Linked DNA regions of Homo sapiens. The protein of the gene in region 1 purifies or fractionates together with the protein of each later gene. This does not show direct contact. Each region holds a gene or a part of one and is shown in the gene's direction. Other genes may lie near its edges.

Region 1 (7,025 bases):
TGGTTGTAGATGTGTGGTGTTTTTTCTGAGGCCTCTGTTCTGTTCCATTGGTCTATAAGTCTGTTTTGGTACCAGTACCATGCAGTTTTGGTTACTGTAGCCTTGTAGTATAGTTTGAAGTCAGGTAGTGTGATGCCTCCAGCTTTGTTCTTTTTGCTTAGGATTGACTTGACAATACGGGCTCTTTTTTGGTTCCATATGAATTTTAAAGTAGTTTTTTCCAATTTTGTGAAGAAAGTCATTGGTAGCTTGATGGGGATAGCATTGAATCTATAAATTACCTTGGGGAGTACGGCCATTTTCACAATATTGATTCTTCCTATCCATGAGCATGGAATATTTTTCCATTTGTTTGTGTCCTCTTTTATTTCGTTGAGCAGTGGTTTGTAGTTCTCCTTGAAGAGGTCCTTCACATCCCTTGTAAGTTGGTTTCCTAGGTATTTTATTCTCTTTGTAGCAATTGTGAATGGGAGTTCACCCATGATTTGGCTCTCTGTCTGTTATTGGTATATAGGAATGCTTGTGATTTTTCCACATTGATTTTGTATCTTGAGACTTTGCTGAAGTTGCTTATCAGCTTAAGGAGATTTTGGGCTGAGACAATGGGGTTTTCTAAATATACAATCATGTCATCTGCAAATAGGGACATTTTGACTTCCTCTTTTCCTAAGTGAATACCCTTTATTTCTTTCTCTTGCCTGATTGACCTGGCCAGAACTTCCAACACTATGTTGAATAGGAGTGGTGAGAGACGGCATCCCTGTCTTGTGCCAGTTTTCAAAAGGAATGCTTCCCGTTTTTGCCCATTCAGTATGATATTGGCTGTGGGTTTGTCATAAATAGCTCTCATTATTTTGAGATACATTCCATCAATACATAGTTTATTGAGAGTTTTTAGCATGAAGGGCTGTTGAATTTTGTCAAAGGCCTTTTCTGCATCTATTGAGATAATCATGTGGTTTTTGTCGATGGTTCTGTTTATGTGATGGATTACGTTTATTGATTTGCATATGTTGAACCAGCCTTGCATCCCAGGGATGAAGCTGACTTGATCGTGGTGGATAAGCTTTTTGATTTGCTGCTGGACTCGGTTTGCCAGTATTTTATTGAGGACTTTCACATCGATGTTCATCAGGGATATTGGTCTAAAAATTCTCTTTTTTTGTTTTGTCTCTGTCAGGCTTTGGTATCAGGATGATGTTGGCCTCATAAAATGAGTTGGGGAGGATTCCCTCTTTTTCTATTGACTGGAATAGTTTCAGAAGGAATGGTACCAGCTCCTCTTTGTACCTCTGGTAGAATTTGGCTGTGAATCCGTATGGTCCTGGACTTTTTTTCTTGGTAGGCTATTAATTACTGCCTCAATTTCAGAGCCTGTTATCAGTCTATTCAGATTCAATTTCTTCCTGGTTTAGTCTTGACAGGGTGTATGTGTCCAGGAATTTATCCATTTTTTCTAGATCTTCTAGTTTATTTGCGCAGAGGTGTTTATGGTATTCTCTGATGGTAGTTTGTATTTCTGTGGGATCAGTGGTGATATTCCCTTTATCATTTTTTATTGCGTCTATTTGATTCTTCTCTCTTTTCTTCTTTGTTACTCTTGCTAGCAGTCTATCAATTTTGTTGATCTTTTCAAAAAACCAGCTCCTGGATTCATTGATTATTTGAAGGGTTTTTTGTGTCTCTATCTCCTTCAGTTCTGCTCTAATCTTAGTTATTTCTTGTCTTCTGCTAGTTTTGAATTTGTTTGCTCTTGCTTGTCTAGTTCTTTTCATTGTGATGTTAGGGTGTTGATTTTAGATCTTTCTTGCCTTCTCTTGTGGGCATTTAGTGCTATAAATTTTCCCTCTACACACTGCTTTAAGTGTGTCCCAGAGATTCAGGCACCTTGTGTCTTTGTTTTCATTGGTTTCAAAGAACATCTTTATTTCTGCCTTCATTTCGTTATGTACCCAGTAGTCATTCAGGAGCAGGATGTTCAGTTTCCATGTAGTTGTGCAGTTTTGAGTGAGTTTCTTAATCCTGAATTCTAATTTGATTGCACTGTGGTCTGAGAGACAGTTTGTTATAATTTCTGCTCTTTTACATTTGCTGAGGAGTGCTTTCCTTCCAACTATGTGGTCAGTTTTGGAATAAGTGCGATGTGGTGCTAAGAAGAATGTCTATTCTGTTGATTTGGGGTGGAGAGTTCTGTAGATGTCTATTAGGTCTGCTTGGTGCAGAGCTGAGTTCAAGTCCTGGATATCCTTGTTAAACTTCTGTCTCCTTGATCTGTCTAATATTGACAGTGGGGTGTTAAAGTCTCCCATTATTATTGTGTAGGAGTCTAAGTCTCTTTGTAGGTCTCTAAGGCCTTGCTTTTTGAATCTGGGTGCTCCTGTATTTGGTGCATCTATATTTAGGATAGTTAGCTCTTCCTGTTGAATTGATCCCTTTACCATTATGTAATGGCCTTCTTTGTCTCTTTTGATCTTTGTTGATTTGAAGTCTGTTTTATCAGAGACTAGAATTGCAACCCCTCCATTTTTTGCTTTCCATTTGCTTGGTACATCTTCCTCCATCCCTTTATTTTGAGCCTATGTGTGTCTCTGCACGTGAGATGGGTCTACTGAATACAGCATAGTGATGGATCTTGACTCTTCATCCAATTTGCCAGTCTGTGTCTTTTAATTGGGGTATTTAGCCCATTTACGTTTAAGGTTAATATTGCTATGTGTGAATTTGATCCCGTCATTATGATGTTAGCTGGTTATTTTGCCCATTAGCTGATGCAGTTTCTTCCTAGCATCGATGGTCTTTACAATTTGGCATGTTTTTGCAGTGGCTGGTACCGGTTGTTCCTTTTTATGTTTAGTGCTTCCTTCAGGCACTGTTGTAAGGCAGGCCTGGTGGTGACAAAAATCTCTCACCATTTGCTTGTCTGTAAAGGATTTTATTTCTCCTTCACTTATGAAGCTTAGTTTGGCTGGATATGAAATTCTGGGTTGAAAATCCTTTTCTTTAAGAATGCTGAATATTGGCCCTTACTCTCTTCTGGCTTGTAGAGTTTCTGCTGAGAGATCCACTGTTAGTCTGATGGGCTTCCTTTGTGGGTAACCTGAACTTTCTGACTGCCCTTAACATTTTTTCCTTCATTTCAACCTTGGTAAATCTGACAATTATGTGTCTTGGGCTTGCTCTTCTCAAGGAGTATCTTTGTGGTGTTCTCTGTATTTTGTGAATTTGAATGTTGGCCTGCCTTGCTCGGTTGGGGAAGTTCTCCTGGATAATATCCTGCAGAATATTTTCCAACTTGGTTCCATTCTCCCCATCACTTTCAGGTACACCAATCAAACATAGTTTTGGTCTTTTCACATAGTCCCATATGTCTTGGAGGCTTTGTTCATTTCTTTTTACTCTTTTCTCTAAACTTCTCTTCTCACTTTATTTCATTAATTTGATCTTCAACCACTGATACCCTTTCTTCCACTAGATTGAATCGGCTACTGAAGCTTGTGAATTCTTCACGTAGTTCTTGTGCCTTGGTTTTCAGCTCCATCAGGTCATTTAAGGTCTTCTCTTCACTGTTTATTCTAGTTCGCCATTCGTCTAATCTTTTTTCAAGGTTTTTAGCTTCCTTGCAATGGGTTCAAACATCCTCCTTTAGCTTGGAGAAGTTTGTTATTACCGACCTTCTGAAGCCTACTTCTGTCAGCTCGTCAAAGTCATTCTCCATCCCGCTTTGTTCCATTGCTGGCAAGGAGTTGCGATCCTTTGGAGGAGAAGAGGTGCTCCAGTTTTTAGAATTTTCAGCTTTTCTGCTCTGGTTTCTCCCCACCTTTGTGGTTTTATCTACCTTTGGTCTTTGTTGGTGGTGACCTACAGATGGGGTTTTGGTGTGGATGTCCTTTTTGTTGATGTTGATGCTATTCCTTTCTGTTTGTTAGTTTTCCGTCTCACAGTCAGGTCTCTCAGCTGCAGGTCTGTTGGAGTTTGCTGGAGGTCCACTCCAGACCCTGTTTGCCTGGGTATCACCAGCGGAGGCTGTAGAACAGCAAATATTGCTGCTAGATCCTTCCTCTGGAAGCTTCGTCCCAAAGGGGCGCCCGCCTGTATGAGGTGTCAGTTGGCCCCTACTGGGAGGTGTCTCCCAGTGAAGCTACATGGGGGTCAGGGACCCACTTGAGGAGGCAGTCTGTCTGTTCTCAGAGCTCAAACATCATGCTGGGAGAACCAGTACTCTCTTCAGAGCTGTCAGACAGGGACGTTTAAGTCTGCAGAAGTATCTGCTGCCTTTTGTTCAGCTATGCCCTGCCCCCAGAGGTGGAATCTACAGAGGCAACAGGCCTTGCTGAGCTGTGGTGGACTCCACCCAGTTCGAGCTTCCACGGCCACTTTGTTTACCTACTCAAGCCTCAGCAATGGCGGATGCCCCTCCCCCTGCCAGGCTGCTGCCTCACAGGTTGATCTCAGACTGCTGCACTAGCAGTGAGCAATGCTCCATGGGCATGGGACCTGCCGAGCCAGGCGCATATAATTTCCTGGTGTGCCATTTCCTAAGACCATTGGAAAAGCACAGTATTTGGGCAGAAGTGTCCTGATTTTCCAGGTACAGTCTGTCCCGGCTTCCCTTGGCTAGGAAAGGGAAAACCCCCAACCCCTTGCACTTCCTGGGTGAGGCGATACCCTGCCCTGTTTCGGCTTGCCCTCCATGGGCTGCACCCACTTTCCAACCAGTCCCAATGAGATGAACCAGGTACCTCAGTTGGAAATGCAGAAATCACCTGTCTTCTGCATCGATCATGCTGGGAGCTGCAGACTGGAGCTGTTCCTATTCGGCCATCTTGGAACAGACTCCTAAACTGGTTATTCTAGTTAGCAATTCCTCTAACCTTTTTTAGAGGTTCTTGGCTTCCTTGCATTGGGTTAGAACATGCTCCTTTAGCTCAGAGGAGTTTGTTATCATCCATCTTCTGAAGCCTACTTCTGTCAATTTGTCAAACTCATTCTCTGCCCAGTTTTGTTCCCTTGCTGGTGAGGAACTGTGATCCTTTGGAGGAGAAGAAGCGTTCTGGTTTTGGGAATTTTCAGCCTTTTTGTGCTGGTTTTTCCTCATCTTCATGGATTTATCTACTTTTGGTCTCTGATGTTGGTGACCATCACATGGGGTTTTTGTGTGGATGTGCTTTTTGTTGATGTTGATGCTATTCCTTTCTGTTTGTTAGTTTTCCTTCTAACAGTCAGCCCCCTCTGCTTCAGGTCTGCTGGAGTTTGCTGGAGGTCCACTCCAGACCCTGTTTTCCTGGGTATCACCAGTGGAGGCTGCAGAACAGCAAAGATTGCTGCCTGTTCCTTCCTCTGGAAGCTTCATCTCAGAGGGGCACCAGCCTGATGCCAGCCAGAGCTCTCCCATATGAGGTGTCTGTCAACCCCTCCTGGGAGGTGTCTCCCAGTCAGGAGACATGGCGGTCAGGGACCCACTTGAGGCAGTCTGTCCTTTAGCAGAGCTTGAGCGCTGTGCTGGGAGATCCACTGCTCTCTTCAGAGCCGGCAGGCAGGAATGTTTAAGTCTGCTGAAGCTGCACCCACAACCGCCCCTTCTCCCAGGTGCTCTGTCCCAGGGAGATGGGAGTTTTATCTATAAGTCCCTGACTGGGGCTGCTGCCTTTCTTTCAGAGATGCCCTGCCCAGAAAGGAGGAATCTAGAGAGGCAGTTTGGCTACAGTGGCTTTGCTGTGGGCTCTGCCCAGTTTGAACTTTCTGGTGGCTTTGTTTACACTGTGAGGGGAAAACTGCCTACCCAAACCTCCATAATGGCGGACGTCCCTCCCCCCACCAAACTCCAACAACCCACGTCGACTTCAGACTGCTGTGCTGGCGGCAGGAATTTCAAGCCAGTGGATCTTAGCTTGCTGGGCTCCGTGGAAGTGGGATCCAGTGAGCTAGACCACTTGGCTCCCTGGCTTCAGCCCCCTTTCCAGGGGAGTGGCAGTTGTCTCTCACTGGCATTCCAGGTGCCACAGGGGTATAAGAAAAAAACTCCTGCAGCTAGCTTGGTGTCTGCCCAAATGGCCACCCAGTTTTGTGCTTAAAACCCAGGGTCCTGGTTGTGTAGGCACCCAAGGGAATCTCCTGGTCTGCGGGTTGTGGAGACCATGGGAAAAGCGTAGTATCTGGGCCAGAATGCACTGTTCCTCACAGCACAGTCCCTCACAGCTTCCCTTGGCTAGGGGAGAGAATTATCTGACCCCTTGTGCTTCCTGGGTGAGGCAACACCCCACCCTGCTTCAGCTTGCCCTCTGTGCTGCACCCACTGTCTAACCAGTCCCAATGAGATGAGCCAGGTACCTCAGCTGGAAATGCAGAAATCACCCACCTTCTGTGTTGATCTCACTGGGAGCTGCAGACTGGAGCTGTTCCTATTCAGCCGTCTTGCTAGCCACCCAACATCACAGAATTTCTAATAATCTGGATGTGGGGGTCTACATGAAACTCTTCCTTTTGTGTGTCTTAAACCCTTTCCAGGAAATTAAGCCCATAGCTGTCATCAATTCTGAAACGGATTTACAAACCAAAAACGTTTAACAACAAATGACTGTTTGAAAAGATATTAAGGAGTAGAAAAGAAAGAAAAATGCAGATAGCTGGGACTTCCTGTCCTCCCCAAATTTCCTTGCATCGATAGCAACAAGAAGGGGCTTAACATTAGCCTGCTGAGCCAGGAAGCTGGAAAGGGGTCCTCTTCACCAAAGGACCACCCCAATCTGATGCTCCAAGATTATGAATGCCCAAATGGTATTCCTGGGGCCACCAGTCTCAGTCACAAATCTTCCAGGATCTTGAGGGGAGGGAGAGAAGGTGGAGTCTACTTTTCAGAGCAAATTCTGAGATTGCCACTATGTCTGCCTCACAGTTTGTGCGAGAACACATCATCCATATGCCTCAAGAGGATTACATCAGCTGGCTGCAGAGCCGGATCAACATACCCATTGGGCCCTACAGCGCCCTGAGGTAGGCTGGGCCTGGGTTGACCAGCTGTCTCAGTG
Region 2 (7,025 bases), about 120 Mb from region 1:
TGTGAGCTGAAAGTTACAGCACATAAAGGGAAAGTATATTTTCCTCGACATCACCTAGCAGCATATAGGAGCAATCTGGTCTATCTTTGTATTGTTTTCCAGGCAACAGAAGAACTCCTCGTTGCTCTAAGTGGTTTTTTAAATGGCCCCTCTTCTCCGAGTTAGAATGGAATCTTTACCATGTTTTGAAACTGCCAGAGAGCTGCAGGATTTGAGTTGCCAGAATCAACCTTGCCTTGACTTCAAGGCAGTCTGTAAAGTAGGGGGTTCTTTCCTCAGTATTTCAGAACTCTAAATTGGGTTTCCTTAGCAACTAATGAGAGCATCCTTTAGAATGCACTGTGTGAGGAGTTGGCAAACTCTTCTCAAAGGGACCAGAGAGTGAGTATTTTAGGCTTTGCAGTCCATAGGATTTGTGTTCCGACTATAGAATTCTGCCCTTGTAATGTGAAAGCAGCCATAAACAACATGTAAACAAAGGAGCATGGCTGTGTTGAGCTTGGCTGTGTTTGTGACTTTCTTTACAAAAAACAGGTGGTGGGCTGGACTTGGCCCACAGATTTGCTGACCCCTATCCTAGATTCATTTGTGTAGTCAGTGAATTCAGGACCTCAACTCTCATTTTTCTCCTTTAAATTCCTAAGCAAGCTTATTTCTAATATGGTTGTAACAGGATGAAAACAACTAGGTGAGAATTGGGATGGTTTTAAACATTGTTTGTGTTGAATTGGCTTTTCTTGTGTGGATTTTCCCCTCTGTTTTTCTAGCCTAACTCAGTATGAACAGTTGAAAGCCCATCAGGGAACTGGAGCAGGAATTTCCCCAGTGATCCTCAATTCAGGAGAGGGCAAAGAAGTAGACATTTTACGAATGCTCATCAAGGCCAAAGACGAATACACAAAGGTGAGTGTTTGCCCTTCCTTGTGATACATACACACTTCAGTTCCGCAGTGGGAATATTCTTGTTTAGCAAGACTAGGTACTGTGGATGCTGTTCCTTCCACCAAACAAAATTATATTACAAATAAAAAATCTTTATTTGTAATATAGATTTTTTATAAGCTGAAGAAAACTGTTTGCCTTTAAGTGGGTTAAAAAATAGCCTGAGAAATCAGTAGCCTTCATATATACAATAGCCTTCATGTATACAATAACCTTCATATACACAACTGGTAGTAAGTCTTGTTAGACTTACTGCAAGACCCCAACTTACAGTAGCAACAAATGAATATAAAATTGTTTGCAATAAAATTCACGAGAAATGGGCAAAACCTATATAAAGAAAATGTTTAAAAACTCCTGAAAGGCATAAAAATAGACTCAAACAAATGGAAATATACACCCTGTTGTTGGATAAGAAGATTCAACATAAAGCTCTTAGAAAAAAAATCTCTACATTTAAGGTGACCACTAAATAAATACCACTGGTTTCTTTTCCCCTCCCCTCCCCACTTCTCCCTTACTCTCTGATCTAGACAAGTTGAGTGTAAGGCTCATGGAAAGAAATATGCAAGAAAGAATAGCTGGGAAAATCCTGGCAAAGAAGTGTGATATTAGTAGGGGTTGGAGGTGGGGGAGATGAGTGGGGGGATGGAGCGAGCTCTCCCTGATTTTAAAACATTGAAGTCAACATTTCAAACAGTATGGTGTTGATGGTATTGATACCTAACAGCCCAATAGACCAATGGGACAGATTTAAGATTCTAAGTCTAGGATTAAATCCAATTGTATATGAAATCTAGGATATGATAAAGATGATAATCTCAAGTCAGCTATTTGAGTGAATTCCTAAATAAATGGTGTTGGGGCAACTGGTAGCCATTTGGAAAAATACAAAACTGAGTCTGTACCTTACAGCATACACCAGGATAAATTCCAAATGTATTAGAAATTTAAATGTAAAAATATAATGATTCAAGTACCAGAAGAAAATTTGTATGGATTTCTTTATAATCTAGGAAAAGAGAAATCTTTCAATTATGCCTAAAAACCCAAAAGCAATTAATTAAACTACATAAAAATAAAAAACATTTTACAAGGTTTAAATACAACACAAGCAAATAGAAAGATACAAAAACAACTCAGAAAAAAATTGTTGACACCAGAATGACAGGAAGGTTATTTTATGAAGAGCTCCTAAAAATTAAGAAGTACAAGATTAACACTAGAAAAATGGGCAAAAAATAAAAATTTTTAAAAATTATAGAATTTGGAAACTAGCTGAAATAAATGTATGTAATTGAATATCATATTGTCACATAATTACTTAGAAAAAAAATTAGAGTGACTTCAAAGCCCGCTGCTTGAACTGAACACTCTTAGTGGGTTATATTTTAAGGACAAAAAGAACTGCAAGACATTATAAACTTCATTCATTGGTTTTATTGTTTGTAGTAATGTTGGCATTTTAATTTTTCTACTGTTGGCATTGTAATTTTTCTACTGTTGTGGATATAATAAATATGAAATTAGATAAACGTGGTTGGAACCAAAACCTTAGTGTAAGGGGAAAAAAATCAAATCTAATAAGTTAAAACTACATAAGATTAAGTGGAAATATCAGAATTAGTTCATGTTTTGTTTCTTAGGTATAAAAACAAAAAATAGAGTTTCTCACTCTTGCCCTGAAAGGACATAAAAATAAAAGTGACTAACTCAGTAGCAGTAAGCATCTATATCACCCAGATTGTTGTTTCGAAATATTACTTCCTTCCAGAAGGTGTCAGGGCTCTTCAAAGAAATTTCTGATTCCAGGTCTGGAATAGTAAAACCAATAGGGTCATGTGAAAGGACACAGAAATCAGCTTCAAGGACACTGACCAGAGCACCACATTCTAACATCAACAGGAGTGACTACAATGGATTAAACCACATTGAATGTATAAAAATCTATGAGTTCCTGGTAATGAGAAAGAGAACAAGCAAACCAAACATATAAAACCAAGCAAAATAATTATTAGTTATCCGTTTGAAGGTGCTAAGGCACCAACTCCTTCCTCTGAAAATTGATAATTAATGGGAATGAAATAAGCTTTTATCCTGCCTGCCCTAAAGGGACTATATCTCAGAGTAATCAAACAGCCCTGGTCAATGAGGGAGAGCTGTTCTCTACCAGAGAATTCCAGCTAGTACGTGTGGAGAGAATAATAGAACTTAAAGACACTCTGCTTAAAATAATTGACTCAGGCAGTGATCATCAGTAATATTAATGTTATGGGAAAGGTTGATAGAAACTTGACAGTGGAAGGATCAGGCTGCCTCCTCCTGAACCCCGCTGATTATCATCATTAAAAGTTAGATAACCAGATTCTCTGGCTTCCTAATGTGATAAGATGTCAAATGTACAGCACCATCTTGAAATATTCTTGCCCAAAGAGTTGATCCTGAATCTCATTAAGCCTTGAGCTCTAACTTTTTAGTTTACAGAAAGTGAAAGTGGGTGGGGAGTGAGGGGAGACAAGGTAGAAAAACAAATTAAATGATGCTATGAGGAAGCAATCAGAAAAATCCTGAATGAAGTGGCACATATAGGCAGTTAGACAAGTTTCTTTAACATGCTTTGCCTTGACTGTGAGCTTCTTGAGTACGAAGAACATCCTTTATTCACTTTTATATCCCTTATTGTCTTCAAAGTACTTAGCACATGGTGAGTGTTAAATAATGGCTATTGAGTGAAGGAAGGAATATGAATGTGAATGAGCCACAGTTTAATTATCCTTCTATTGTATGGCCTGGACAGAGATGCCTTAATCTCAGCTTCAGACAGTAACTATTCTGTATTCATTTTGTGTTTTTTTAATTCTTCAAAAGTCATTAAAAAAAATTATGATGACTTGGCAACTAGTTGAATAATTAGTTATACTTTATTAATTATACTATATTATGCACACTAAAGATTAATCTTCAAAAGGTGACATTTCTGCCCTCCAGGAACTTAATGTTCTGTGAAGACAGTGTAACAATGGTAAATAAATACAAATATTGAAAAAAATTATTTTCCTTTCTTTCCCTCCCTCCTCTCAACACACACATACCTTGTATTGTTTCTGTTTTTTATCTTCTATATGTTATAATGTTTTGACATCTTAAAATCCTTTCTGGCTGGGGAGACTGCCCCTCCTGTGACCAGCCAGTGTTCAGAGATAGCAAAGGGCTTGGCCAGGAGCACGCCTTTAATATGCACACTAACCAATCCTGAGCCATACGTATCTCCTCGTCTCTGGCCTGTACAATATTCCTCTGCCTTAATCATCCCAGGGCCAGGTACCCAGCAACTGGGGACCACTCATACAGTTTAGAGCCTGCTGGAGTTATTCAAACTGGCCAATCTTAACCTGTTTACCATGCCCTGCCTTGCCTTCCTTGAGGAAATTCAGTAAATGCTCTAGCCTACGCCTTCCCCTTGCTGCTGACACCCTGAGGCTTCCACACGTGGCCCTGTGCAGCGTGGCATGCCTCTTGTCTCCAGGACCTGTGAGTATAATAAACTTTGTTTTCCTGAGACTCTCCTGTGTCTCCTCTCTGGCCTCACTTGAGTGACCATCACATAAAAGAACAGCACAAGCACACACATTCTCTGTCTCTCTCAGAAACACTCATATACGGTTCTGGAGATTTAATTTAGGCCATCACTTTATACTGTGCCTATGTCTTGGAATATTTTTCCCCTTACTTTATTTACCCTTCAGAATTTACATATCCTTTAAGGCTTAGTAAAAATGACACTTTTTACGTGGAGTTTTCCCAGGTCTCTTCAGTCAAATTAATTATTCTTCCATGTGAACTCAGTCTATTACTATTTAAAACTTATTTTGTTCTTCCTCATTTATTACATTAAGTCAACTTCTCCCAGTACACTGTAAACTGGTTGAAGTTAAAACAATGTTCTGTTCATCTTTATGCCCTCACAGATTTGTTATAATGTTGACATGAAGTGCAGACACTTAATTCGTGTATAGAAGGTGCTTTTCTGTAAAAATCAAATACATGTTGTTTTATGCGTAATGTCAGTTGCTCCAACTGTGAGATAAATAATAGAGGAAATTATTTCTTCTTCCATTAACAGCCAGATGTTGTGATACAGTGTGCCAGGACACCTGCATGATCACGCTACTTTCCTAGTCTCCGTTTTTCTTGGTTTGTCATTGCCCAGTACAGGAACCCTTGGAGTCTTCAAGCCTTCCCTAAGACGGCCTCAGTTTGTTCTTCTAACCCTACTACCCTCTACAAATATTTGAAACTCCTGCCAAACAGAATACTCATTTTGCTTCCTGAGAGTGCTTTCATGACTTTTCTCATACTGTTCCCACCCCTTCTTCACCCATCAAAATATGATCCAGCTTTCAGGGCCTGTTTCAGATGTTCTTTTTCCATCACCTTATTTTTGGCCGGCCTAACTAGGTGTGCATGCACCCTGCTAGCTGCCAGTGCCTTATGTTTGGAAAGAGCATTCCATCGCCTTCTTACATTGTGTTGTCTCTGCACTCACACACAGATATTTCAGAAAATGTGGAGACCCTGAGTAAAGTGGTTCTGAGACAGAAGAAAGGGGGTGAAATGGAAAGGTAGCGAGAGAGAAGGAAAACAGAATGTTCCTTCAGAGTTCTTGTTGGGAAGTGAGTCTCCGTTACTTAAAGTGTTCAAGAAGAGATTGAACAGTTACATATTGGTGATGTGATAAAAGAATTTGGCTTGTGTTGGATAAGTATTAAACTAAAAGACTTCTGAGATGGTTTTCAGTGCTAGACTTACTTTTATTGAAGTTTTCTTTTTAAAATTATTTTCAATGAAAAATTAAAATTGTATATATTTATGTATGGTATACAACATGATATTTTGATATGCATGTATATTATAGGGTGCCTAAATCAAGCTAATTAACACATGTATTACCTCACATATTTATCATTTTTGTGTGGCAAAAATAATTAAAATCTACTCTTTTAGCAACTTTCAGTATACAATATATTAGTACTAACTGTAGTCATCATGATGTACAATAAATCTCCTGAACTTATTCCTCCTGTCTAATTGAAAGTTTGTATCCTTTGACCAACATCTCCAAAATCCTCCTACCCCCAGCCTCCGGCAACTACCAGCCTACTGTGCTTCAGTGGGTTCAGCTTCTCTGGATTTCATGTAGGAGTGAAATCATGCAGTACTTGCCTTTCTGTGCCTGGTTTATTTCACCTAATGTAATGTCCTCCAGGTTCATCCATGTTGTTGCAAATGACAGAATTTCCTTCTTTTTTGAGGCTGAATAGTATTCCATTGTGTTTATACACCACATTTTCTTTATCCATTCATTCATTGATGAACACTTAGGTTTATTCCATATATTGGCTATTGTAATGTTGTGGTGAACACAGGAATGCAGCTATCTCTTCAACATACTGATTTCATTTTCCCTGGATATATACCCAGAAATGGGATTCTTCGATCATGTGGTAGTTCTATTTCTAATTTTTTGAGGAGCCAACATAAATTTTTTTTTTTTTTTTTGAGACGGAGTCTTGCTCTGTCACCCAAGCTGGAGTGCAGTGGAGCAATCTTGGCTCATGGCAAGCTCTACCTCCTGGGTTCACGCCATTCTCCTACCTCAGCCTCCCAAGTAGCTGGGACTACAGGCGCCCTCCACCATGCCCGGATAATTTTTTTGTATTTTTAGTAGAGACGGGGTTTCACCGTGTTAGCCAGGATGGTCTCGATCTGCTGACCTCGTGATCCGCCCGCCTCAGCCTCACAAAGTGCTGGGATTACAGGCGTGAGCCACTGCACCTGGCCCAACATGCTATTTTCCATAATAGCTATGCTAACTAATATTCCCACCAACAGTATACAAGGATTTCCTTTTCTGTACATCCTTGCCACCACTTATGTTTTGCCTTTTTGATGGTAGACATTCTACCAGGTTTGAGGTGATATTTCACTGTGGTTTTAATTTGCATTTCCCTGATGATTAGCGATGTCGAGCATTTTTCACATACCTATTGGCCACATGTATGTCTTCTTTTGAAAAATGTCCA
Region 3 (6,925 bases), on another chromosome or scaffold:
GTTAGACATTTAGTATTTAGTAAAGTAGGTCATATTTATACTTGTTGTGTCATGGTACCTGTGGAATGCCATGGAAATGTCAAATGGACACTTCTATGTAGCAACCTGGAGGTCAGAAGGGAGGGAGGTTGCAGAAATAGGTCGATGAAAGAGGTCTTGAAAGGTGGCATGTCAACAGGAACAAATGCCGCTGAGCTGTCAGGCAAGATAATGGTGGAGAGGTGGCTGTTGGAGTTAGCATCAGATGGCACCGGTGATCTTGGCCAAATCAGACATCCAGACCAGAATTGCAATAGATGGTGCAATTGCAATCTTAGGTTGGATTTCCTAGAAACAGTGCCTCAGATCTCTTGTGGAGGTGATTTGTAAAAGTATGCACTTCAGGAAACATTTGTAAGGGAGGGAGCAAAGCCCATGAGGAAGGGGAATGCCTGAAAGGGGTAAAGCCTTGGCCTTGTGCTGGGGGAAGAGGGCTCTGTGAACTCTGCTTGTGGCAAAGGAGCTGTTTTTTTTCTTTTTTTCTTTTTGAGACGGAGTCTTGCTCTGTCGCCAGGCTAGAGTGCAGTGGTGTCATCTCAGCTCACTTCAACCTCTGCTTCCCAGGTTCAAGCAATTCTCCTGCCTCAGCCTCCCGAGTAGGTGGAACTACAGGCATGCACCACCACGCCCAGCTAATTTTTGTATTTTTAGTAGAGACAGGGTTTCACTATGTTGGCCAAGGTGGTCTCAATCTCTTGACCTTGTGATCCGCCCACCTCAGCCTCCCAAAGTGCTGGGATTACAGGCATGAGCCACCGCGCCCGGCTGGAGCTGGCTTTTAAACCCGGTATCAGTCTCAGTCAGTCAGTCACTGCAGGCCAGCATTTTACATGGGATGAAAGGAGGGATGGATGGAAGGGGTGGAGGATACATACCTGGTCCTTCCAGTTAAACTATTTAATAAATAATCATGACTGAGAATATAAGCCTTAGAAGTACTGTTATTGTTCTGTAAATTTTTTAAAAACACTTTGAGGATTCATTGTTATTTATGCTCCTTGCCTTGGAGGGACATCTTGGTTCTACATATGTATAAATGTCTAGCAGATTGAAAATCTGAAATTCTTCTTTCATTACTCTTCCCATACAGTGCTCTTGCACTATTCCTCTAAGAAAGCCAAAGACACATTATACTTGTTTTTTAGATGAGGAAATCAAGGTGCTGGGAAGTTTAAGAGAACTCTACAGCCATTCATCTAGCATAAAAGGGCTGACGTTAGAACGCAGGCCAGGCCTTTGCCTCTTCCCTACCCCATTCCAGTGGTTCTTGAAGTGGGATCCATGCCCTCCTGCAAGCAGAATCACTTGTTAAAAATGTAAACTCCAGGGTCCCTCTCTGGGGGCAGGGCCTGGGATTCCACATTTTCAAAAGCTCCTCTGTAATTAGTGCATACAAAGAAGACTCATTGTCTTGGAGCAGCACCCGCTTCTTACACGGGGAGTCTGGGATGGGAAAGAGGAAAGCAAGTCAGTGCAACTTGCACATGTCTTATCACAAACCATAGGGAAGGAGGTGCCTTGTGGTATAAATACTGAGTTTAATGCCATTAATATAAACGCTCATATTCCCAAACAGACTGCCTGTACTAGTACATTACTTCCATTTTCCAAAAAAGGAAAAGAAAGGTTCCGTGTCAAAGAACTCAATTGGAATCCTCGCTTGGTACTTGCTTCCTTGCCAGCAGTGCTCAAAAAGAGAAAAAGAAAATCCAAAGTCCATGTACATAAAAGTTCCATTCCCGATGGTGGAGGGCTTAATTAAAGTCCTCAGATGTTTCTGTGCACCTTGGAAAACATTTTTATGAAATTCATATATTACCAGAAGTGGCTCCAACAATTCTTGCAGTTAAAAACCTTGTAACTCATGCAGCTCCATCAGGAGCAAGCTGCCTTTTTCAAGATTTGTTTTGCTGCTTCCTTTACCTCCGTAGCCTGTGGCAGTGACGGCTGCTCAAGGGCCTTAACTGCCAGGATGGCACTAGAGGATTTTCCAAGGTTAAGGTCAGATAACAGAATCTGGAAGAAATGGATCCCTCTTCCTGCATTTCCTTTTCTCATTATTTCAATAAATGCATTGAAGGCTTGTGATGTGTCTGGCACTACAGCAGGCACTGAGGATGCCACGCTGAACAAAGCGGCTGGATCTTCATGGGGCTCATATCCTAGAGGGAAAGACATAATAAGCAGACTCTGCAGTGTCACACAACATCACCTAGGAAATATAGAGATGCAAGTGCTCAGGCGCCAGGCCAGACGTGAATTCAACTGTGGTAGCAAGACCTTGTATCTTCTGATGGGACGTTGAAGTGTGAGAACCACTGGACTCTCATATGGTGATAAACTTTGGAGAAAAAGGACGGAGGCAGGTGTGTTGCTGATGCCAGCAAATGTTAGAATAGTGAAACTGCTACACCCTGGACTATGAAGCAAGCCAGATTTGAATCCCAGCTCTGCTACTTACAAGCTGTGTAACCTCCGGCAGGCTACTTAATCTCTCTGTACCTTGGGTTCTCCTGAGAAATGGAGATAATAATAGTAGCTATCTTATAGAGATGTGAGGATTAAAGGAACTAATGAATATGAAAGTGCTGAGAATAGATTCTCACATATAGCAAACAATATACTTGTTGGGAGACAATTCTCTGGACAATTCTTGCATTTCTACACGTCTTGGAAGCAAGGCACTAAGTACCCTTTTGTTCCAAACTATCTTTGCAAGGATGTTTGTATATAACATCCTTGGAAGATTGAGATAGTGTCTCACTCTAGAGCAAAGAACAGACATGCTTACTCCCATTACAAAAGATTCGGTTTCCTAACTCAGAGTTCCTGTTCTTGAATGAAAGTCATGCAGTATACAGGTGTCTTTTGGCCCTCTTAACTGTCATACTGTAGGAATCAATGCAAAAATGCTGATGGCTATTTCTGTTGTGAGTAAATGTCTGAACTGAGAGTCTAGTGTCTTCTATCAGCATTTGTAAAACTGGCCAACTGACTTGCTAAGTTGCAAGTAGGGTGAAATCTCAGACCCTTCGTAGTCCTTGACAATTCTGTGAAAGTGTGTAAGTGTTTGTTAGTACTAATGTTGTTATTACTCCACAGTACGTGCCAATTTTCTGGAAGAAACAAAAATGTAATTGATGGCCCTAGCCTTCAAAGAGTTCCCAGTTGAGCCAAGGAGGTTAAATATGCGAAGATGACGCAAAAGACATACAGCAGCAGGAAAGCAAAGCTTTGGAATGAAACTTGGGTTTGAATGTAGGCTGTGGATGCTCACCAGCTATGGCAACTCTGAGCCTCAACAAATTTCTATTTGTAAAGTGCTGTTGTTAATAATGCTTACTGTGTGAGGTTGTGAACATTAAGATAGTGCATGGAGAGAGCTTAGCACGGGTCTGGCATGCAGTAAGCACTCAGTTACCATTACTGATGTTGCTGTATTGCATTTGTGCTTAGGATACAAGCAGAGCACTTTCTCTCCCCTCCCTGGGTCTTTAGGGAAGTAAGGCCCCAGTACTGTACTTCCTTTCAGGTGGAAGCTGCTTTCCTTGGAACCACCAAACCCCAACTCAGTATGTCCCTGGATTCTGCCCAAAGAATTCCCCAGGGCTAAGCTCCTATAGGTGGGTGGCTAAAGGACTGGCTTCAGAGTCAGACAGCTCTCAGTGGATATATACTTAGAGATTTAATATGATATATACTGCTTTGAAGTTTATGTGGTTTTTGATGATTTTATTAATGTGCATAATAGTCCTAGCATATAATATGTGTTCAGCCAATGTTAATCAGTGCCCTAGGCTACACCACCATGATCTAATGGGCCATTCAATTTTCATGACTGTATTCCTAGGATATTTCTCAATGACTCATACATGGTAGGTGTTCAGTAAATATTTGTTGATTTAATTGGCTTGAGTGAACAAAAGAAGTAATACGTCCTTTCATCTTTTCTTTCAAGATATTTCTGCATTAAATCATCCTCAGTATATTTTTTTGAAAGCCAAGTTTTCCCAAAGCTCCTCATTTCCTCATCTCCCTCTGTGCCACTGGTTTTTCAGTTGCTGGGGGCTACAGACCCTCTCTCTAGAAAGATGGACATGTGAACATAAGCACTGCATTTTGCACACAATTTCCGTGGTTCAGAAACCACCTGAACTTTTCCTTCTAGAGGACCCTGCTTAAACACTTCCATTCTAGGGTGTCCAGCCCATTAAGATGGCCAAGAAATCACATCCCACTCATCTCCCCCAAATCAGCAAGCTGTCATGGACGGTCCTCAATACAGTTGCTACTTTGTTCCTCTATAATCAAGGCCACACAAGACCCACTTCCAATCTACTTGTGATTTAGGGATAGCAAAGGATTAAAGCAATTCAAGTATTTTAGATTCCTATTGATAGCAGAATTGTGGTTTTCAAGACGTGCTAATGGAAAAATTGTTAGTAAAAATAGGTTCATGCAGTCTTATTGATCATGCTTGTAATTCTGAAGATTCCACTTGTACTTTTTGTAACCATATTTCTCTTCTCTTCCATTCTCTAGTTGTGAGAAAACCCAGTTGTCCAATAATTGTCAAGCTTTCCTCGGCCTTAGGGAATGAGCACTCAAGACCTTTCTGGGCCAAGTGTGGTCGCCGACTCCTGTAATCCTAGCACTTTGGGAGGCCGAGGAGGGAGAGCTGCTTGAGCCTAGGAGTTCAAGACTAGCCTGAGCAACAGCAGGACTTCATCACTACAAAAAATAAAAAATTAGCCATATGTGGTGGTACACCCCTGTAGTCCCCCAGCTACTCGGGAGGCTAAGGTGGGAGGATTACTTAAACCCGAGAGGTCGAGGCTGCAGTGAGCCGTGATCGCACCACTGCAGTCCAGCCTGACCCTGTCTCAAAAAAAAAAAAAAAAAAAAAACCTTCTGGAAGCAGAAAGGAGGAGGTTTTCCAAAACCAAATCATGTCAAGTACCTAGCTTGACCTCAAAAAAAAATACAGAAGCAGGGTTGGTAATTGATTGACAGGAAGGGCAGCTCAAAGCAGGAAATGGAGAGTGGTATGAAAACACTTAAGCAGTACTGCCCAAAGGAAGAACCTGAAAAGTTCAGCCATAGATTTTCTGAGAAGATGAAAGTGTAGGCATTAGCATACTCAAGAATCAGGCAGACAGTTTTCCCCATTTGGAAGCTGAAAAAGGAATGATCTGCTGCCCAAGACAAGAAAATGATGTGGGCCCAGAGGGAACCGTCACTCACACGTACACTGTCCAGGGGGCCAGAGAAGGATTACAGCCGCCATTTTGGCTTCTCTAGAGTGAAGCAGCAAAACAATGTCTAGTGGTTGCTAGGCAACCATTAGTCCATCGCTGCCCTTTTCCATTAAACATTATCTGCCTTCTTAGATTGTTTTATTTTTTTAAACAGGATAGGTAATGCAACAGAGAATTAACGGTGCAACCTAACAATGAAAACGCATTTGAGGTTCCCGAATCAGTGAAGGCTTTGCAAAGGTTAGATCACTCTTGGGTGGATGCCGAAGATAGTGACAGTTGACTGAAACCTCTTCCCCAGACATTTCATCACTGGTCCTCATGTTTCCTAGTGCCAAAAATAATAATGTGGACGTAACAATAATCTCTGTACATTGTAAAATGTCTGTCCTCTGCTACGACCTGCTCCAAGCTAGATCTTGTCCTGAAGCAAGTTTCTCTATCGGCAAAGAGTGGATGTCAGAGGTGGTAAAATGGAGTTCTAGCCCTGGTCAGCTTTGCAGATAGCTAAGATCATGGTATCCAAAGAACCTGAGCAAAAGTACATGGAAATAACACCTGTTTATGCAAGGAACGCTTTCTGACACATAAAAATGAAGAGTAACTGGTAGGAGAGAATAAGCGTCTTTATTCAGATACACATCGCATTCGGATTTTAAACATACCTAATGACTTTTACAACAAGAGGACACTGAGGTACCCAGAAAGAGGGTGGAAAATCAGGATGAAGGGAGTTACTGCTAGCCTGTCATGTACCATGCACACAACCTATCTTTTTAAATACCAGTGGATTTCCTGTCTGGCTCAGGGGGCCTGTCTAGGAAGAGATTCAAGGAAAGTAGATGGGTTAGTTCCAGGGACTGGGGCTCAAAAATTTAAAGCCACACGTAACGTTAGCTCTCTCACTCCCACACACATTTAAGATAAAGGAGATGGCAGTAGTGTGCTGCCCAGAGGATGGAATACGCAGATAACTAGGTTTCTATACTGGTTCTACTCACTAGTCTGATCTTGGGTAATTTTTTGGGTCATTGTTCTGTAAGGGAGGGCAATAATAACTACTTGGTCAGGGCTGTTGTGACAATTCAGCAATAAAACATGGTCAATTGCAGCTAAGTATAATTATTACTTTATTGTTGCTGTTATCACCACCCACACCTCTAATACTGTTCCTGTACAGCTAGAGAAACACCGCTTTTGGTTGCCCCTTTCAGATTTGTGTTCTTTCAGGCTGCCTTTGGTGCTCTAAGTGCAATTTCATCTGGATAAGAAGAGTATGATATATGTTGCTCAGGGCGCTCTAACAGGAAGGGACTCCAGGCTCAGCTGTACCCAGCCAGATACCTGGCTTGTGGAGTAATTGACACCCTACAGGCAAGGGTGGACCAACTTCGTTATCGTGATACCTGCCAGGGTGTGAGGCCCGGTGTGACAGGTGTCAGTTTCACAGTCTGTGCAGATCCTCACATGTACTGAGATAGAACCGCCATTTTTTCCTATGTGCCCAACACCATGCTAATTACTTCTTAAGCATTATCTTATTTAATTTTACAACTCTGTGAAGTATATGCTATTATCCTTATCTTGCACACGAGGAAGCTTACATGCAAAGAAGTTGCACAACTTTC
Region 4 (7,717 bases), on another chromosome or scaffold:
TATACATGCACACCCATTAAAAGCATCCGCTTCAAAACTCACAGAATGGAGGCAGAGGCTAGGAAGAAAATCCCCTAGGATGTGAGGAATGGGGGTGTGGAATCCCATGCGCTTAGCTACATTCCTGAAGTGGGAGCTCACTCAGCAAGCCTGACATTATTGCAAAGCTGGCTAGAAAGTCAAGCCCCACCCTCACTTAATTCCTTTACAGATTCTTTCTTTTCCCTTTTTTTTTTTTTGGAGATGGAGTCTTGCAGTCTTGCTCTGTCACTCAGGCTAGAGTACAGTAGTGTGACCTCGGCTCACTGCAACTTCCGCCTCCCAAGTTCAGGTGATTCTCCTGCCTCAGCCTCCCGAGTAGCTGGGATTACAGGCGCCTGCCACCACGCCTGGCTAATTTTTGTATTTTCAGTAGACACAGAGTTTCGCCATGTTGGCCAAGCTGTTCTTGAACTCCTGACCTCAGGGGAACCACCCGCCTCAGCATCCCAAGGTGCTGGGATTACAGGCATGAGCCACCATGCCCAGCCTCTTTCTTTTCCTAATAAACTTTTAGTTTTGAAATAATTTTAAATTTACATTAAAATTGCAAGGATGGGCTGGGCGCAGTGGCTCACACCTGTAATCCCTGAACTTTGGGAGGCAAAGGCAGGCAGATCACTTGAGGTCAGGAGTTCGAGACCAGCCTGGCCAACATGGAGAAACCCCATTTCTACTAAAAATACAAAAAATTAGCCATACGTGGTGGTATGTGCCTGTAGTCCCAGCTACTCGGGAGGCTGAGGCAGGAGAATCGCTTGAACCTGGGAGGCAGAGGTTGTAGTAAGCGAGATCGCGCTGCTGCACTCCGGCCTGGATGACAGAGCAAGACTCTGTCTCAAAAAAAAAAAAAAAAAATAGCCGGATGTGGTGGCACATGTGTGTAATCCCACCTACTGCAGGGGCTGAGGCAGGAGAATTGCCTGAACCTGGGAGGTCGAGGTTGCAGTGAGCCAAGATCGTGCCACTGCACTCCAGCCTGGGTGACAGAGTGAGACTCCATTTCAATAAACAAATTAACTAATTTAATTTAAGTGCAAGGATGATACAGACAGCTCCCATAACCCTTTTGACCTGCTTCCTCTAATGGTTTTTTTTTTTTGTTATTTATTTATTTATTTATTTTTGAGATGTAGTCTCACCGTGTCACCCACGCTGGAGTGAAATAGCAAATGGCAAAATCTCGGCTCACTGCAACCTCTGCCTCCTGGGTTCAAGCGATTCTCCTGCCTCAGCCTACCCAGTAGCTGGGGCTACAGGTGTGCGTCACTACGCCTGGCTAATTTTTGTATTTTCAGTAGAGGCGCAGTTTCATCATGTTGGCCAGGCTAGTCTCAAACTCCTGACTTCAAATGATCCACCCGCCTCGGCTCCCAAAGTGCTGGGATTACAGGTGTGAGCCACTGAGCCCGGCTCTAATGTTAACATCTTACACAACCACAGCATATTTAGCACTACTAAGAATTTAACATTGGCACGTTACTATTTCTTTTTCTTTTTTTGTAGTTTTTTTTTAATTTGTATTCAAGACTCAACATAATCATTTTCTTTTCCTTTTTTTTTTTTTTTTTTTTTTTGAGATAGGGTCTTGCTCTAGTGCCCAAGCTAGAGTGCATCAATCAAGATCCTAAATCACTGCACCCTCGAACACCTACACCCAGGCTCAAGTGATCCTCCTGCCTTAGCCTCCCGAGGAGCTGAGACCGCAGGTGTGCCCCGCCACATCCGGCTAATTTTTTTCTTTTCTTTTTTTTTTTTTTTTTTTTTTTTGAGACGGAGTCTTGCTCTGTCGCCAGGGCGGAGTGCAGTGGCACGATCTCCGCTCACTGCAACCTCCGCCTCCCGGGTTCAAGTGATTCTCCGCCTCAAGCCTCCTGAGCAGCTGGGATTACAGGCTCGCGCCACCACGCCCGGCTAATTTTTTTTATTTTTAGTAGAGACGGGGTTTCACCATGTTGGCCAAGATGGTCTCCATCTCCTGACCTCGTGAGCCGCCCGCCTCGGCCTCCCAAAGTGCTGGGATTACAGGTGTGAGCCACCGCGCCCGGCAAAAAGATCGCCTTGCTTTTGACACAAAAGTGCTGGCAGCCCCCATCCCCTGGTACCAGAAGCCCCTCTGCACAGTCTTTTCCAGGTGTGGACGGATAATTAGGCAGTGACTTGCTGCCCCCTGCAGGTAAGACTGAGAAAGGCAGCCCCTGTGCCCTCCTTTTTCTTGTGTCCGGTAGATTTGGGGACGTTTGCTTCTCTCTTCTCCACCTCCTTTGCCTTCTCCCCACTACCCCACCCCCCGCCAGCAATTAAAAAAAAAAAGCCACCCTGGCACAATTTGGACAAAATCTATGAGAAATAAAACGTGCAAACGTGCATAACCTTGGACCTAGTAATTCCATTGGTTGCAAAAGTCAGCCAAGATTTGTGGGCACGGATTGTGTTCATTCATTTATCTAGGGCAGTATTAGGGCTGTTTCTAATTTGTTGGCTATTACAAATAAATCTGCAGTGAACATTCATTTACACAATTTTATATGGGTCTATACTTTCATTTCACTTGGGTTAAAACGTAGGAATCTAATTCTTTTGTCATAGTATAAGTGAATGCTTAATCTTTTAAAGAACTGTCAGACTGATTTCTAAACTGTTTATGCCATTTTACATTCACAACAGCAGCACGTTTGAGTTCCAGTTTCAACACATCTTCACAGATACTTGGTAGGCACAGCCTTTTTAAATTTTTCCCATAATAGTTTTTTTTTTTACTAGGTTTTTGATACAGAGGGAAATAGAGAAGAAACCAAAAATTCCGATAGTCCTCTGCTGACATTAAAAAGATATATTCAAGGGCCGGGCACGGTGGCTCACGCCTGTAATCCCAGCACTTTGGGAGGCTGAGGCAGGCGGATCACCTGAGTTCAGGAGTTCGAAACCAGCCTGGACAACATGGCAAAACCCTATCTCTACTAAAAATACAAAAATTAGCGGGGCATGGTGGTGGGCGCCTGTAATCCCAGCTACTCAGGAGGCTGAAGCAGGAGAATCTCTTGAACCTGGGAGGTGGAAGTTGCAGTGAGCCAAAATCGTGCCACTGCATTCCAGCCTGGGCAACAGAGCGAGACTCTGTCTCAAAAAAAAAAAAAAAGATATATGCATGTACACATCGTATGTAAGAAAACCGCACAGTACTGAAAGGATGAAAAGAAAGAAAGAAAGGGCCAGGGGTGGTGGCTCACGCCTGTAATTCTAATGCTTCAGGAGGACTGCTTGAGGACAGGAGTTTGAGACCAACCTGGACAACACAGCAATACCCTATCTCTATTGATTTTTTTTTTTTTTTTTTTTTTTTGAGACGGAGTCTTTGTCTGTTGACCAGGCTGGAGTGCAGTGGTGCGATTTTGGCTCACTGCAACCTCCGACTCCCGGGTTCAAGCGCTTCTCCTGCCTCAGCCTACCAAGTAGCTGAGACTACAAGCGCAGGCTACTATGCCCAGCTAATTTTTGCTTTTTGTGTTTTGTTTTGTTTTGTTTTAGTAGATACAGGGTTTCGCCATGTTGGCCACGCTGGTTTCCAACACCTGACCTCACGTGAACCGCCTACCTTGGTCTCCCAAAGTGCTGATTTAAATATATATGTACTTTTTTTTTGAGATGGAGTCTCTCTCTGTCGCCCAGGCTGGAGTGCAGTGGTGTGATTTCAGCTCACTGCAACCTCCGCCTCCCGGGTTCAAGCGATTCTCCTGCCTCAGCCTCCCGAGTAGCTGAGACTACAGGCGCCCGCCACCACGCCCAGGTAATTTTTTGTATTTTTAGTAGAGACGGGGTTTCACCGTGTTAGCCAGAATGGTCTCCATCTCCTGACCTCGTGATCCGCCCACCTCGTTTTCCCAAAGTGCTGGGATTACAGGCGTGAGCCACCGCGCCCGGCATAAAATAGATTTTTAATTGTTTTAACATACCACCAACCTTGTCACATGATATTGTCATTTACCTAAAGCTGAAAAATTAATGAATACTGATTAGGTTTACAAAATTAGGTTCAGCTATCCAGTGAACGCTCAAAATATGGCAATAAAAGAGAACGGGGGTGGTGGGGCGTGGCTCAGGCCTGTGATCCCTGCGCTTTGGAAGGCCGAAGCAGGAGGATCACTTGAACCCACGAGTTCGAGACCAGCCTGGACAACACAGCGAGACCCCATCTCGACAAAAAAATTTAAATGAAAATATTAGCCGCGCTCAGTGGCGCCCGTCTGCAGTCTGCTACTGGGGAGGCTGAGGCGGGAGGATCTCTTGAGCCCAAGGGTTCAAGGCTGCAGTGAGCCACGATCGCGCCACTCCACTCCAGCCTAGGTGACAGACCAAGATCGTGTCTCTAAAAAAGAAAAAAAAATCAAGGAGAGAGAACAGGTCACCCAAAAGTGCGCAAAACGCTCAAAAAGGGGTTGGGTTTCCAGCACCCTGTGTGAAGAATGGGAGACCGGAAGTGGGCGCCAAATTCGGAAGTGTGGCAGCAGATAGGAATCGAAGGGCACTCATTCGCTTGGCTCTCTGTCCCGCCCACTACCCGGAAGTGTGGCCCGGGTCCAGAACCAAGAGCGCATGCTCACCTTGTAGCTCAGCCAATCAAAGAGAAGCGAGGCGGCCATTCGGGCGGAAATAGTGTTTGCAAACAGGAAGTGTGGCACTCCAGCTACCGAAGCACTGGAGAGTGTCATGGAGGCCTACGAGCAGGTCCAAAAGGGACCCCTGAAGCTGAAAGGCGTCGCAGAGCTGGGAGTGACCAAGCGGTGAGGCCCGAGGGCCCGCGGGATTCCGTCTTCATCCCCCTTAGACCTTTTCTCGGGACCCCTGGCCCTGATCCTCCGACCCGCCGCCTCCTCATGTCTTTTTCCAGGAAGAAGAAAAAGAAGGACAAAGACAAAGCGAAACTCCTGGAAGCAATGGGAACGAGCAAAAAGAACGAGGAGGAGAAGCGGCGCGGCCTGGACAAGCGGACCCCGGCCCAGGCGGCCTTCGAGAAAATGCAGGAGAAGCGGGTGAGCAGAAGCAGAAGGCGGCGGGGAGGCGGGAACACCCGGCGCCGGGAGACTGGAAATTGGGGTCAGGGCTGGGACGCTCCGAGGGCAGGGGAGCGGTCAGAGGAGACCTTAATTACGGGGAGAGGATGCTGTACGTGAGTGAGAGAAGAGTCGCCCTCTGCCGGGGGAGCTCCAAGGATGAGAAGACCCCGCTGGCCCGAGTGGGCAGCAGAGGGGAGAGCTAGAACTGGCGTTGAAAGGAGGCCAGAGCTGGAGACCCGGGTTTGGATTCCAGTGCTGTGGCTTATTTGCCCTGCGACACTAGGCCAGTGACTTTCTTATTTCCGTGCCTCAAGTTTCCTCTTCTGTACGAGTCAGGGTAGTAACTTATTCTAAGAGGGTTGGGAACTTGAGAGGAAGTCATGAAAGTAAAAAGCAGTGCATACATGTTCAGTGGATGCCAGCTCTTGATATTAAATGGCCATGCTCGCCGCTCGAAGTCACCACAAAGTTTGTTTCCAAGACAACTTTGTTTGGCAGATTCAAACATGCTGTATTTTTTAAAAAATTAGTTATTTTTGGCGGGGTCAGAGCACTGCAGCCTCTGCCTCCGGGGTTCAAGCAATTCTCCTGCCTCAGCCTCCCGAGTAGCTGGGATTGCAGGCGCCCGCCACCACACCTGGCTAATTTTGGTATTTTTCGTAGAGATGCGGTTTCACCATGTTGGCCAGGCTGATCTCGAACTTCTGATCTCAAGTGATCCGCCCGCCTCAGCTTCCCAAAGTGCTGGGATTACAGGCGTGAGCCACCGCACCCAGTCTCAGCTGTTGATATTGAATGGCCATGCCCATGACGACTTTGTTTGTATTGTATTATAAGGCTCCGATAAATTATTTTTTCTTAACACCATAAATGTGTGCAGTGGAGAACAGAAGAGTTCACAGTAAGACAGAAACTGGGTCCATTATGCTGGGGAGAGGGAATAATCAGTGTAGGTCAGTGATTCTCACCTGGGGGTAGTCTCCACCCCCCTAAACTCCCACCCCGAAGCACATGTGGCAATGTCTGGAAACATTTTTGGTTCTCAACTGGGTTGGGGTGGGGACTACTGGCAACTAGTGGCTAGAGGCCAGGGATGACACCACACACCCTGCGATACACAGGACAGCCTGCCGCAGCAAAGAGTGATCCGGCTCCAAATGTCAGTAGCACTGAGGCTGAGAAACCCTAACCCTGGTCTAGGTGATTCTGTACGGTGACACTGGGGAAAATGGACCTTGGGGACAATTAACTCCTTACTCCCAGATCTAATTCAGGCATACAGAAAACACATGGATGCACTACCTCTGGCATGACAGACCTGAGTTTGACTCTGCCTCTACCACAAATTAGTGGTGTGACCCTGGGCAAGCCGGCTACCTATTACTTAAAGTAGCACTAAAGTCTGCCTCACAGGGTTGTGGTAAGGATTTAACAAGTCAGGCGGGCGGATCACGAAGTCAGGAGTTCAAGACCAGCCTGGCCAACATGGTGAAACCCTGTCTCTACTAAAAATACAAAAATTAGCCGGGCATGGTGGCACACACCTGTAATCCCAGCTACTTGGGAGGCTGAGGCAGGAGGATTGCTTGAACCAGTACCCGGGAGGCAGAGGTTGCAGCGAGCCGAGATCACGTCACTGCACTCCAGGCTGGCAACAGAGTGAGACTCCGTCTCAGTGAGACTCAGTCTGGCTCTGTCACCGAGGCTGGAATGCAGTGGCTCGATCTCGGCTCACTGCAACCTCCGCCTCCGGGGTTCAAGCGATTCTCCTGCCTCAGCCTCCTGAGTAGCTGGGATTACAGGCGCCTGCCACGACGCCCATCTAATTTTTTTGTATTTTTAGTAGAGATGGAGTTCCACCACGTTAGCCAGGCTGTTCTTGAACCCCTGACCTCAGGTGATCCGCCTGCTTCAGCCTCCCAAATTGCTGGGATTACAGGCGTGAGCCACCACGCCCGGCCTTTTTTTAATTTTTTGAAAAAGCCTCGCTCTGTTGTCCAGGCTGGAGTGCATTGGTATGATCTCAGCTCACTGCAACCTCTGCCTCCTGGGTTCAAGCGATTCTCCTGCCTTAGCCTCCTGAGTAGCTGGGACTACAGGCGCCCACCACCATGCCCAGCTAATTTTTGTATTTTTAGTAGAGACGGGGTTTCACCATGTTGGCCAGGCTGGTCTCGCTCTCCTGACCTCAAGTGATTCACCCGCCTCAGCCTCCCAAAGTGCTGGGATTACAGGCGTGAACCACCATGCCTGGCCAAGTAAATGCATTTCTTTCCCTTCTAACCCTGAGGTTGTAGTCAGAGGCAGGGCTGAGATTTTATTGCTGGAAGCCAGAATGAGACTTATGCGAGACTTAGGCAGCTATTAAGAGACTAATAATGGGAGCTCAGAGTAGAGCAGTCGTGATGGAGCCAGTGGAAGGTAACAGGTTTGGAATAGGTTTTCAAGGATGAATTCAGGGTTAGCTGTTGGGTTGGATGTAAGCTGGGAAAGAAAGAAGAGTCAAGGATGACCAAGACTTTGGGCTGGGCAGTTTGATGAATGAAGGTGCTGTTTACTGGGGTGGGAAGGATTGCAGGTAAAGCAGGTTTTCTGGAGTGGGAGTTGAGGGAGGGGGAACCAAA

What was found.
Region 2: the proteins of CCDC60 (region 1) and DCP1B purify together in Homo sapiens (affinity purification with mass spectrometry; 2 studies listed by BioGRID and IntAct, with this or other methods). This does not show direct contact.
Region 3: the proteins of CCDC60 (region 1) and FAM204A purify together in Homo sapiens (affinity purification with mass spectrometry; 2 studies listed by BioGRID and IntAct, with this or other methods). This does not show direct contact.
Region 4: the proteins of CCDC60 (region 1) and FAM32A purify together in Homo sapiens (affinity purification with mass spectrometry; 2 studies listed by BioGRID and IntAct, with this or other methods). This does not show direct contact.

What each region holds. Positions count from the first base shown.
Region 1 is NC_000012.12:119,533,722-119,540,746, forward strand, and holds part of CCDC60 (coiled-coil domain-containing protein 60), read left to right. Parts: intron 1-6,892; coding exon 6,893-6,994; 3' UTR 6,995-7,025.
Region 2 is NC_000012.12:1,959,436-1,966,460, reverse strand, and holds part of DCP1B (mRNA-decapping enzyme 1B), read left to right. Parts: intron 1-767; coding exon 768-903; intron 904-7,025. UniProt on the Homo sapiens protein: May play a role in the degradation of mRNAs, both in normal mRNA turnover and in nonsense-mediated mRNA decay. May remove the 7-methyl guanine cap structure from mRNA molecules, yielding a 5'-phosphorylated mRNA fragment and 7m-GDP.
Region 3 is NC_000010.11:118,297,413-118,304,337, reverse strand, and holds the end of FAM204A (protein FAM204A), read left to right. Parts: 3' UTR 1-6,413; downstream 6,414-6,925.
Region 4 is NC_000019.10:16,180,697-16,188,413, forward strand, and holds the start of FAM32A (protein FAM32A), read left to right. Parts: upstream 1-4,713; 5' UTR 4,714-4,746; coding exon 4,747-4,820; intron 4,821-4,927; coding exon 4,928-5,069; intron 5,070-7,717. UniProt on the Homo sapiens protein: Isoform 1, but not isoform 2 or isoform 3, may induce G2 arrest and apoptosis. May also increase cell sensitivity to apoptotic stimuli.